Regions from separate parts of the Homo sapiens genome. Here region 1 is linked to region 2. The links come from fine-mapping of genetic effects on gene expression. A gene starts in region 2. The other region holds a variant in brackets. All regions are shown on one strand. Distances are between the middles of the regions.

Region 1 (5,373 bases), 100 kb after region 2:
CCCCACTAGTAAAATGCCTGCGAGACAGAGGCTGGAAGACAGCCCTGCTTTTCTGAAGGGGTGGGATTATGGATGTGTGGAGGCAGGAAGGGGGTATTAATTTTTGTGAAAATAACTTTTTAAAAATAAAAGTAGGCTTCTGCAGTAAGACAATCTCATTTCAGTTTGCAAAGAGCTCCTCCCAGTAAGAAGGGAGAACGTTTTCTCCTTACCTCCTCGTTCCTGGCCACGCAGACCCTCGATAGGCCCTGCCACCATGTCCCTCTCACTCTGCGTGTGCAGCCACAGGATGCTGAGCTGCTGTCCTTGAGCCCTTTCCTTACAGCAGCAAAACCAATCCACATGCAAGGTCTGGAGGTCAGGACGGGACTCACGGCTTCTTCCCTACTTCCCACCCAGGTTCTAAAGTCATTTTACTTAGCACAAGGAAATGAGGAAAGAACAGGGGGAAATGAGGAGAAAGAACAAGCATGCCTATCATGCGCTCCACGTTGTGCTAGGGCCTTAGGAATGTGCCTTCGGCAAGCACTATATCTCCCTTTTGATTTTTCTGTGGAAAAATCTCCCTTTTGATTTCTCTGAGACAGAGGCTGTTTAGAGGCCATGAGAGGGAGGGGTTTTGTCCTTGCTATCATTGTCTGTTTCCGTCACCAGCCAAAGCACGGACCCTGATCGGTATCTCCATTTGGCTAACTCACCTTCTCTTCTGCTATGTCCTTTCCTCCCTCCATCATTTGAAAATTTCACAACCTGTGAGGTTGGGAAGCATAGGTAGACGTTTGGTCAAGCTGGAACGACAGTTCTACCAAACTCCTCCCCTTGTGCTCATGTGTGTGTTCCCGTACCCACGTGGATCTAAGTCCTGTCCCGGGATAGTGCTCGTATCTGGAGTGAATGGAAGGGTCAGGAAGGATGTGCTTGTCCTGAAGGCTTGTAGAGGGAGGAGCTATCATGGCAGCCTCTCCTCCTGAGCTCATTCAGGTGTTCCCTCTGCCTGGCTGGGCCATCTCTTTCCTTGCCCTTTCAGTAAGAGGCTGTGGAATTATGTGAGGGAGAGGAAGAAGCTACTGCTTAGAGGGATTCTGCTCTCCAGGCCTTAAGCTGGGGTGCTTTCTAGCTCCGCTCTTCTCGTTTAAAGGGATGGCCTGACTCCAGCAGGTATCTGGAAGTAAAAACAACAAACAACCCCAAACATCTCCCAGCGCCAGACTGATAGCTCAGATTTCTACCACAGGTGAGATTTCCTGCTCATCTTTCTGATGGAGGAAGCCTGTGTGTGTGTGTATGCACGTGTGTGTGTGCATGTGTTGTGCATGTGTGCGCGTGTGTGTGTGCATGTGTGTGTGTGTGTTTTCTCTGCTGATTTATAGGCACTTTTTGGGTTGATAGATCTGTGAGGAAGAGTAGGAATGGAGTCAGGGAATTGTCTTCGATCAGAGGCCTGATGAGAACAAGGCGCTCATCAACACTGTTTAGGAAGGTGTTTTGTGCAGGAATTTGTGGCAAGTGATGGGAGGATGGTAGGGTGTGAGAAGAAGGGGGAAAATGCCACAGTATCTGACAACTTAAAACTCAGGGAGTCACAGAAATGTTGGGGCTTTGAGAAAACTTTGCCAACAACTCTCCTCTGAGGGTCTCTGGCCTGAGGTCACTGAGAATCTCAGGGAAAACAGGAGCAAGGACACAGCGGGCCCTCATGGGAGCAGATGCAGTCCTTTGGCCCACCTGCCCCTCCCTGCTCTCATCTCGGAAAACGTCGGCCCCCAACGCAGACAGGTCACTTGGAAACCAGGGAGTGGGGTTAAAAGCATCTCTCAACCCAATGTTCCCTTCCCCTTTCACATGCAGTATTTTGGGAACCGCGTGCTGTAGAAGCTGCATTGTAACAGTGGAAACATTTTAATTAAATGGGGAGACCTTAGGTCTGTCACATGACCTGGGTGTTCTCCTGTATAAAATGAAGGCTGATAACAGCTCCTTGACCGCTTCACAGGACTCTGGGGTCAAACGTGGCATGGGAAAGTGCTTTGTAAGGGAATTCAGATGTATAAGCTGTTCTTAGTAGGAGAGCAGTTTGCTCACCTGCTTAATGCTGGGGTTGGGGCAGGGCTGAAGCTGGGAGCTGGTGTTGGTGACTTCGGGAAGTTAGCTCTCCCTTGCTTCCAAGTCAATCAATGCTGGCTTTCAGTGATATTATTGAAAGCATATAAAGCTGGTCTGGTTGGCCTTAGAATAAAAGCTTCTGAAGGGCAGGGGGGCCTGGGGCTGTGTGGGACAGAAGTCTCTTGTTTCAAGAAGACATCAGTTCAGTGGTGGTATTCTGCCTGTGCCTGTGAGATCTGGGCTCGGACAAGCACTTTAAACCCACAAGTTGGCTGCATCATCTCTGAGAATTCCGTGACCCTTTCTGGG[G/A]TGGGGGCTGAGGAGGCCAGGAAATGGCTTTGGTCCCATTAGTCATTCTGGCGCCAGCAGCCCGACAGCAATGGCTTCTCATAGGGGAGTTGGGGGAGATGCCCATGGCGGGAGGGTGCCATGGGGGTGGGGTGGAGGGCAGGGGGGCTGCTGTTCTCATGCCCCTTTTTACCTAGATGCTGCCAAAGGTGGTCCCTGGAACAGTGACCACAAAGTGTCTCATGGGAGGAAGAAGGATGAAAGAGATGGGAATTCTTGTAAATTTTTAATCTGAAAAATAAAGAAAGTGTGAATTAGAATTAATGCAGGTATTAAATATTTAAACTTTCTGTACTCACTTTCATTTTTAACATATTCCTTCCTCAAAAACCTCGATAACGCTTGTCAGATTTGTTCTCAAGATGTCCCCCTCTCTCCACCTCCCCCTAGGCCCAGCCCCAAAGTGAGACCGCAGGTATTCATCATCCTGATGGAAATGCTCATTTTATTTCTCCTACAGGAACCATCTGATCTCTCTCTTTATATTTATGCTTTCTCTCTGTGGCAGTGTAAATAATTAATGCTGTTACAAACACATCCTATGCAAAATATATATTAGAAAAAATAACTCTTTAATTTGGCATGTCATTTAATTCCATTTTGTAATCATAGCACAGGGGCTACAATTAATGCCAGGGCTGAGGAATCCAGCCTGACTGCTGACACTGGCAGAGGCACGACCAAGTCTCCTAGACTGAGGCCCTCTTGGACTCTCAGCTGTTTCTTCTTTGTGTGCTTTTGGTTGATGGATGGAGATGGTACCCACTGTCCAGGGCGAGGCTGAGAGTGAGTCTGGAAATGAAACAGGAAACTCACTTCTATCTTCAATAGAATGGGGCAAGGGTGGTCCAGGTCTCTTCAAGTGCACTTGGTAGCATTCATCCAAAAGGATGCTGGGACATTTAGATGTAGGACATTTGGTACATCCTCACGGGGTCGGGGGCGGTTGTCCTTGGACTTTTGGGGAGTTCTCACAAGGATTGGCTTGGGGCACAGTAGCAAAGAGTTTCCTGGAAGTTGGGTTTTATGCATGCATTAATTTAACAAATATTTATTGAGTGCCTCATATGTGCCAGGTGTTGTTGTGGGCACTGGAGATACAACAGTGACTAAGACAAGGAATGAAGATGAAAATATCCAGTTTCTGAATATTCCACCATCGCCTCTGCTCATTCCTTTTTCCATTCAATGGTCTTTCTGGCTATCTTAAGGAATCCATCTATCAGAGCCATTGCCCCCTCAGGTTTTAAGAACTCTTGGCTAGTATTTGAATAACTCAGTGTTCCTGGATTTACCAATTCCTGTGAGTTTAGCACAACCTCGCAGATAAGATTGCAACTACCAGCAGCCCTCTCTCCCCTGGGAGGAATCCTACAAACCGAATGACTGGCATCGGCATTCCTTTCTCCTGGACTCCAGGTGTGGTCTTCCCTCTGCAGGTGGGTGAATGGCTCTTTTGGGAGACTGCAGGTCCTGCCATGACATGGTGTCTTGCACTGCTGATCCTGCCTCTATGTGTCATCTCAAGGGCCCAGACCTGGGGCTGAAGCCTTGGAGGTTTGAATTTCAGCTTTCATGTGGCATTTGTCAGCCTTTCCCCCTATTGAATATCTTCTGTAATTGTCCCACGCCTGGCGCCATTCAGTGTGTGTTCCCAAGCTAAAAAGCCCTCATTCACTTGTGGCTCAGGCTCTCATTAATTCTTTCATGGGGTGGAGAATAATGAGGGGACAGCTAATACACTCGAAAAAAAATTGATTTTGTAGTTAGCAATTTGCCACTCTTTGTTTGGAAAGCCAATGTGGACTCCTCAGCCTGTAATTCCACTGAGGAGAAAATTTAAACAATTGGCACCCAGGCCCCAGCCCACCTTCCCAGAGAGGCTCTGATGCACTCTGCATTTCATGTTTCCCAGGATAGGATGGCGGGAGGAAACTTGGAAATCATCACGAGCACCCTGCTCTTCTCCCCTGACTCAGGCTCCTGGACCAGGGCCTGTATCAGGCATGGGCTGATTCAGGAGGTGGAGATCTGTCTGACTTGAAAGGCCTATGGGAGGAGTTTCCAGGCATCTCAGAGGCTCTTGATTGGCTAGGACCAAAGATGCTGAACCTTAGCTGCCTTGGGGGGTGACACAAGAAGTTCTGCAGGACTAACCCCTGTGACTCAACTTCTGTGTCTTTCATGGGGGCTGATGATCCTGTCTGTGGATTTGGAGGGAAGATGTTTGAATGATTTCACAGTTCCCTGCCCCACCATCCCGTCCTCTCTGCTGGGATAGCCATGGGACTGAATTCTACCCAGACTCTAGTATATACTCTGGCCTTCCTTCTTAGGAAGGATTTAAGGAGCTCTGAGTTAGTTTTCAAACTTTGCTACAAGTCCAGCTTGGCCATTTTGCTCTGCTTTTAGAAAATGGGCTTTCATCTTAGTAATACCAGATTTCCATTTGTACACCGTGTCAATCTGACAAGACACTCATAATCTCTTTCCGGACATCTCCATTGCTGAATTCTCCCTGAATACAGTGTTCCATGCTCTCCTTTCTTGAATAGACTTCCTCCCATAATTTGCACCGGGGTTTCTTCCCTACCTCCATCCCAAGGCAGAGTGCATATTTGGGTCAGCTCTCAGCCCCACTCCTGTTTTCATTTGTTCATTCAGTATTTGCCATGCTGGCACTGTATCAGAGCACTCTGCTCACTTGGTTTTCAGAGGAGTCTCAGTTCCTGTGTTCCAGAAGACACTGATTTCAGTTCTGTCTAGACCTTCAATGTGTGTCCTGTCATGAAAATAGCAGAGTTGAGGGAAGGAGAGCAGCAAATTGATGACTTTGTCAAGAAAAAAAAAAAATCCCCCAGGGTCCATAAGGAGCACCTCCTCCTTGGGCCTTGCTCCAGCTCATAGCCCAGATGTTTTTCC
Region 2 (5,373 bases):
GTCCGCCACCCCAATTAATATGTTGACACCCTAACCCCCAATGTGACCGTATATGAAGACAGGGCCTTTAGGGGGGTTAAGCGAGGTCATAAGGTTAGGCCGCAATCCAACAGGACTGTCCTTATAAGACGAGGGAGAGACCACCAGAGCTGTCTCTCTGCCTGTGTACACAGAGGAGAGGCCACGCGAGGGCACAGTGAGAAGGTGCCATCTACAAGCCAGGAGGAGAAGCCTCTCCAGAAACCAACTCTGCTGGCACGTTGATCTTGAACTTCCAGCCTCCACAACTGTAAGAAAATCAATGTCTCATGTTGAATCCATCCAGTGTGTGGCATTTTGTTGTGGCAGCTTGAGCAAACTAATACAGACAGGTCTTAAATTTTTATTCATATTGTGACATTGGCAGAATTCAGTTGGGCCATTGATCACCCACATTGGAAGATTGGAGGAGGCAGCCTGGGCTGGTGTGGGCTGCTTATACCACAGACAAAGTGCAGGTAGAGTGAGAAGAGGGCCCAGAACCAAACAGAAACTCCAAAATTTAGGAGTGATAACTAGGATTTGTAGAAACTTCTATTTGGTTATAATGTCAGTGTGTTGATGGCTTATGCAATACAACATGTACATTCCTCTCCATTCTCTTCTTCATCCTCAGAGGGATGATGGGGAAGAAATTGTAGAGTATCTGTAGTGAATTCTTAATTTCTACTCTATCCTTTCTCTACTCATTGACAGAGCCAAAACTGAGATGTGGAACTCATGGAATTTGACATATTGACAACTCATTTCTTCATTAAGTATTTACTAGCTTGTGTCTTCTGTTGATTCCTGTATTATTGCTACTTAATGTTTTACATATTGGCGCTTTGTCTTCTTCAACAAATGAATGCTTCTTGAGGACAGGAGCCATAACCTGAGCCTCTTTGCTTCTGCTCTTTATTCTTAGTGCTAGCACACAGCAGAGCTTCTGGTGGGTGCAGGGAAAATATTTGCCTTCAGTGATTATAAAAACGATGGTTATATTTTGGATAATCATTTTTTAAGCTCTTGCAAATGACAAAAATAGTCAAAGCAAGATATATTTACTTAAAACTACGATGTGCAGTTTAAAGCACCAAAAAGGTATTAGTGAAAATCATAGTATTTGAAGACTCCAAAAATTAATAGCTCATGGCAATGGATCTCCCATATCAGGAAAGTGTTGGGCATTGATCTAGATTTCAGAAAACGAGGGGTGTGACAGGTGTAAATCAGTGATCCAAGGCTGTTGCCTGCGGTCCTATTTATGGCTCACTGACACCTCTCTGATGGGGTGAATTCAGCCTGATTTTCCCCTCTGACTCTGCAGGCTGCAGCAACTCACTGGGAGCCATGGGAAAGAGAGAAACTCCTCCCTCCAGGGGTCCTGGGCAGAGACAAATGGATCTCCCCTCCCCCTCCCTTATCTGAAGAGGGCTTCCCTCTGAGAGTTTATGGCAGCCTGACCTCCAGCCTCTGGGTTGGAGAATCTGGCCGCTTCTGTACCACATAAAAAGGGCAAGTGCATTCATTATTATTATATTATTATACAATGTATAATATATAATAGCGATTATGCTGTCAGCAGCCAGAGACTCTGACTGCAGATCAGAGGCTAGGGTGACATAAATCCACCTAGTGAAGTTTTTGAAGGTTCTATGTGAAGGTGAGAGGATTCTAATCTGTCTATAATGGGGGCTACCACTGAAGAGTTTCTCCCACAAGCAACGTTGGTGGGTGGATTTGAGGGTATTGGGAGGATCTGGACAAACAGTAGTGTGTGTATCTGGGATGTGATATAAGAAGGGTCTCAATTGCCTCCCCTGAGCCAGGCAATGCTAACAGCTCTCATCCTTGCCCATGACGGAGGCGGGTGAGTGGCGACCCAGAGGCCTGAGAAGAGCTCAGGGGCAGCCTTCAACTTCTTGGGTCAGATTCTTTACTGAAAACCCAGAGGCTGGGTTTCACTTTCTGCTTTCCCGCTTTTGTCGGTGTCTTTGTCTGGGCTTCTTCCAGGCCCCCTGCCTGGCCTGGGGTCAGAGGATCAATGGCTGCCTGACTGGCTGAAAGGGCTCCTCTATGGGGAGCAAGAAGCAAACTTCCAGAGGCAGAAGGGGTTCTCTTGTCCCTTTATGCGGAGGGCCATGTGCTAAGTTGAGGAAGCAAGCAAGTGTGCTCCTGTGTGTGGCTCTTAGTAGGACTGTGATCTCTGCTGAGTGAATGGAGGCGCTTGTGGGTCTACACATGCCTGCTTTTGTCTTCCACTGTAGAGGGCATGTAAGGAGCCCATTTCCTCCCTGATGTAGATGAAGCCACCCCAGCAGGCCCAGGCTGAAACAGCCCAGCTGGTCTTTCCCTTTATATGACTGCACCCCAGCCCCCAGAACTCTGGGAACTCACTGAGTTTCTTGAGGACTTTTTATTAGAATGAAAATAGCAGTGGCTTAGAACAGGCTTGCCTGACATTTGCAAAGAAGTGCTTTACTGACAAAGCCTATCCACTCTTTCCTCTCTCCCTCTGCCCCACCTTGAACCAGACACCCCGGGAAGCCCACAGCAGAAAAAGCTCTTGAGACCAGGAATAACTAACCAGAGTGTCATCTGAACACCTTTTCTGGGGCCAGGGTAATGAGAATTATTCAAATGCAATCATAAAAATGAGGCCAGCCAGGCAGGAAAAGGGGGAGGGGGAGTGCTGGTGGAAGGAAGGATTTCTTGCCCGTTTTAAGTTTCATCATTTCTGGGGAGTTCTCTTGGGGTCCACAGAAAATCTCACCTCATCTCGGTCCCCTCAGCACCGGTGATATCTTGGAACTCGGCCCCGGTTGTTCGCTAAGGAGGACTTGGCTTGGGGGCGGGAGGGTGCTCCAGAGTTCCTGGGGGTCCACCGCACTCCCCATCCGAGGCTCCTCGCGAGCGGAGCCGCTTCTCCAGGCCGCCCGCCTCCCTGCCGCAGGAGCAGGCCCGCGCCCGCCGCCCGAGAGCCTCCGGTAGAGGGAGACACTCCAGCGGCTCCTCCGACTTGGCAGCGGCCGGGCCGGGAGTGGGTGGGGGTGATGGGGGGTGGGGAGAAAAGGGGGAGTGGGGAGAGGGGAGGTGTGTGAAGGGGGGGTCCGGGGGGCGGGTCCCTGTGCCGCTGACGTCCCGAGCAGTGCTGGGAAGTATAGGCTGTGTTGTCACGCCGGTGTCAGTCTGATGAAGATTGGCATCAGGTAAGCTGTCATTCATTTCCATGTCAGAGACGCTTTTGCAGGCGGCGGCGGCGGCGCGGCGGCGGCTGCTGCTGCGGGCGGCTGCCTCAGAGCGCGTGTGTTTTATTCCAGTCCCCAAGCCAGAGTATTATTCATTGCGACAGGGCAAGGAGGAGAGAGGGAGAGAGGGAGGCAGCAGGGAGGAGAGAGAGGGAGGCAGCAGGGAGGAGGGAGGCAGGGAGCAGCGAGGGACGGCGGGAGCGTGCAGAGAGAAGCTGGGGAAGCGCCGGGAGAGCGCGGAGCGGAGCAGCGCGAGGGGCGGCGAGGCCGGGCACGGAGGCTGCGAGAGCCCCGCGGGCCGCCCGCTCCCCTGCCCGGCCAGCGCTCAGCCCCGCCGCCGCCGCCGCCGCCGCCTCGCCGCGCTTGGGCCCGTGGCCGGCCGCGCATTGTCCTCGGGTGCAAGGAGCCGGGCTGCGGACTCGAATCGCCGCGGGCCCAACCCCGTAGCGGGCGGGCGGGGAGCTGTGCGCCAGGAGCGCCAGGGGACCCGAGAATAGGAACAGGCACGCCGGCCCGAGCCCGGGTGCAGAAGGCTCCCGGCCGGGCGCTCCGCGGGGAGAGGCTGGGAACCGCGGGCAGGCTCCAGGTTCTCTTTCTCCCGGCTTCGGGCGTCCTTGGGGCCGGCGCTTACTCCGCGCCACCAGCCTGGAGATGCTTTCCAGCGGCTGGAGGCGGGAGCGGTCCCAGGCTGGGGCCAGGTGACCGGAGGAGTCGAGGAGCCGCGGCCGCGGCCTGGGGAGGCAGGGCGAATGAGGGTTTGCAGACGGATCAGTGGAGACAGGGGAACACCGGCGGGGCCCGGGAAGCCAGGATCCGAGGGGCTACACGCACGGACCCTCACCCAGGGAGGAGCGAGAATGTGTAGGGTCACCGGCTTTCCATGATTGCTGGGGATCTTTGGTGAGGCGGGCGTAGGGGCCCGCGCGAGGCTTGGGAATCGGGAGCCCTTCTGGCTCGAGAACTAGGGGATGAGTTCGTAAAAGAGGGAACTGAAAGCGATCGAGAGCGGAGAGCTGAGGGGGATGGCGCAGGATCCCGAATCTGCCGCTCAAAGTTTGCATTTCTTTCGGGTTAGGAGACGGGCTTTCCTGGCTCCCGATCCCCAGGAAGAAACGAGCGAAATGGGCCGTCCTTTCCCGGGGCTCTTCACGGGGGAGCCGGGGGTTTCCGCGCGGTGGGGAGACTCGGGTTGGGAATTGAGGGGTAGGGGCTTGTGGATCGGCCTGAATTAGGGCTGGGTTTTAGGACCAGTCTAGAGTTCGGTTTATAGGATCCAGACTGTTTACGGAATCGGGATCGAGGGGCCGATAAGTAGTTTACACGCCGGCCAGAGCAGAGGGCTGGAGGTCGGAGTTGGGGGCTGGAGGAACGGGTGGCGTTTTTAGGATTCAGTAACAGGATCACAGCTTTTTCTTGTGGTGGAAGCTATTGGAATTTGGGGAGGGTAGCACGAGGGGTCCTGCAGCTCCGCGTGTGAAAAAGCGTTTAGGTAGGCGATGAAAGTAGTTGATCTGAGCCATGGCAGGCGAGCCCCGAATTTTTGCTGCTTCCCCCTGAAAGTGTTTCTTTAGGAGGAGAGGACTTGGGCCACACAGGACCCGGTCCTAAGAGAGCGATTCCGGGAAGCGGACAGATCGAAGAGACCTTCTGGGCGAAGCGGCAGGGCAGCCTCGCGGGGCTGGGAGTGGATCTGAGGTCCCGACCCAGGCGGCTCGGAGTGCTCCAGGAGCCACCTGGGTCTGCGGGCGCAGCGCGGCGGGGCGGGAGCGGTGGCCCGCAGGGGCCGCGGCCTGCGATGAAGGCCGGGGGGCAGCGCTAGCAGCGAGGTGCCACAGTGGGCCGAGGAGTCTGGGCTGTGGCCCAGGGTAGGACCGGCTCAAACTCCAGTGCCCTGATTGGAGCCGCTTCCTGTGCTTACCCGCGCCGGACTGAGAAGCCCACAAACCCGGCCTTTGGTGCGCCCGGGGGAGGAGGAAGCTTGGAGTGCCCTACTGTCATCTCTCCTGTCCGGAGACTTCAGGATATTAGCTTTTCGGGTTTCAAATGCTCTATAACCGGTGGCAGCCAAAAGCTTCGCATTTTAGGCAGTTTAGACGATCCTCCC

Direction of the effects. Positions count from the first base shown, and alleles are read on the strand shown. Sizes are in standard deviations (SD) of each study's normalised expression.
With allele A in place of G in region 1, the expression in spleen of the gene that starts at base 3,205 in region 2 is higher (large effect, 1.2 SD a copy in GTEx).

The links.
Region 1: its variant is fine-mapped to the expression of PKNOX2 in spleen (GTEx, PIP 0.96).

Annotation. Positions count from the first base shown.
Region 1 is chr11:125,266,428-125,271,800 of GRCh38, forward strand. The region is part of intron 2 of PKNOX2 (PBX/knotted 1 homeobox 2); the gene reads left to right. It overlaps PKNOX2-AS1 (PKNOX2 antisense RNA 1), which reads right to left and starts at 371. Exons shown (of 2, transcript NR_187382.1): 1 at 213-371. The variant G/A (reference allele first, on the strand shown) is at 2,413.
Region 2 is chr11:125,161,547-125,166,919 of GRCh38, forward strand. PKNOX2 (PBX/knotted 1 homeobox 2) reads left to right here and starts at 3,205. Exons shown (of 13, transcript NM_001382323.2): 1 at 3,205-3,230. PKNOX2-DT (PKNOX2 divergent transcript) reads right to left here and starts at 3,063. Exons shown (of 3, transcript NR_125759.1): 1 at 2,795-3,063. RefSeq lists a silencer at 2,918-3,067.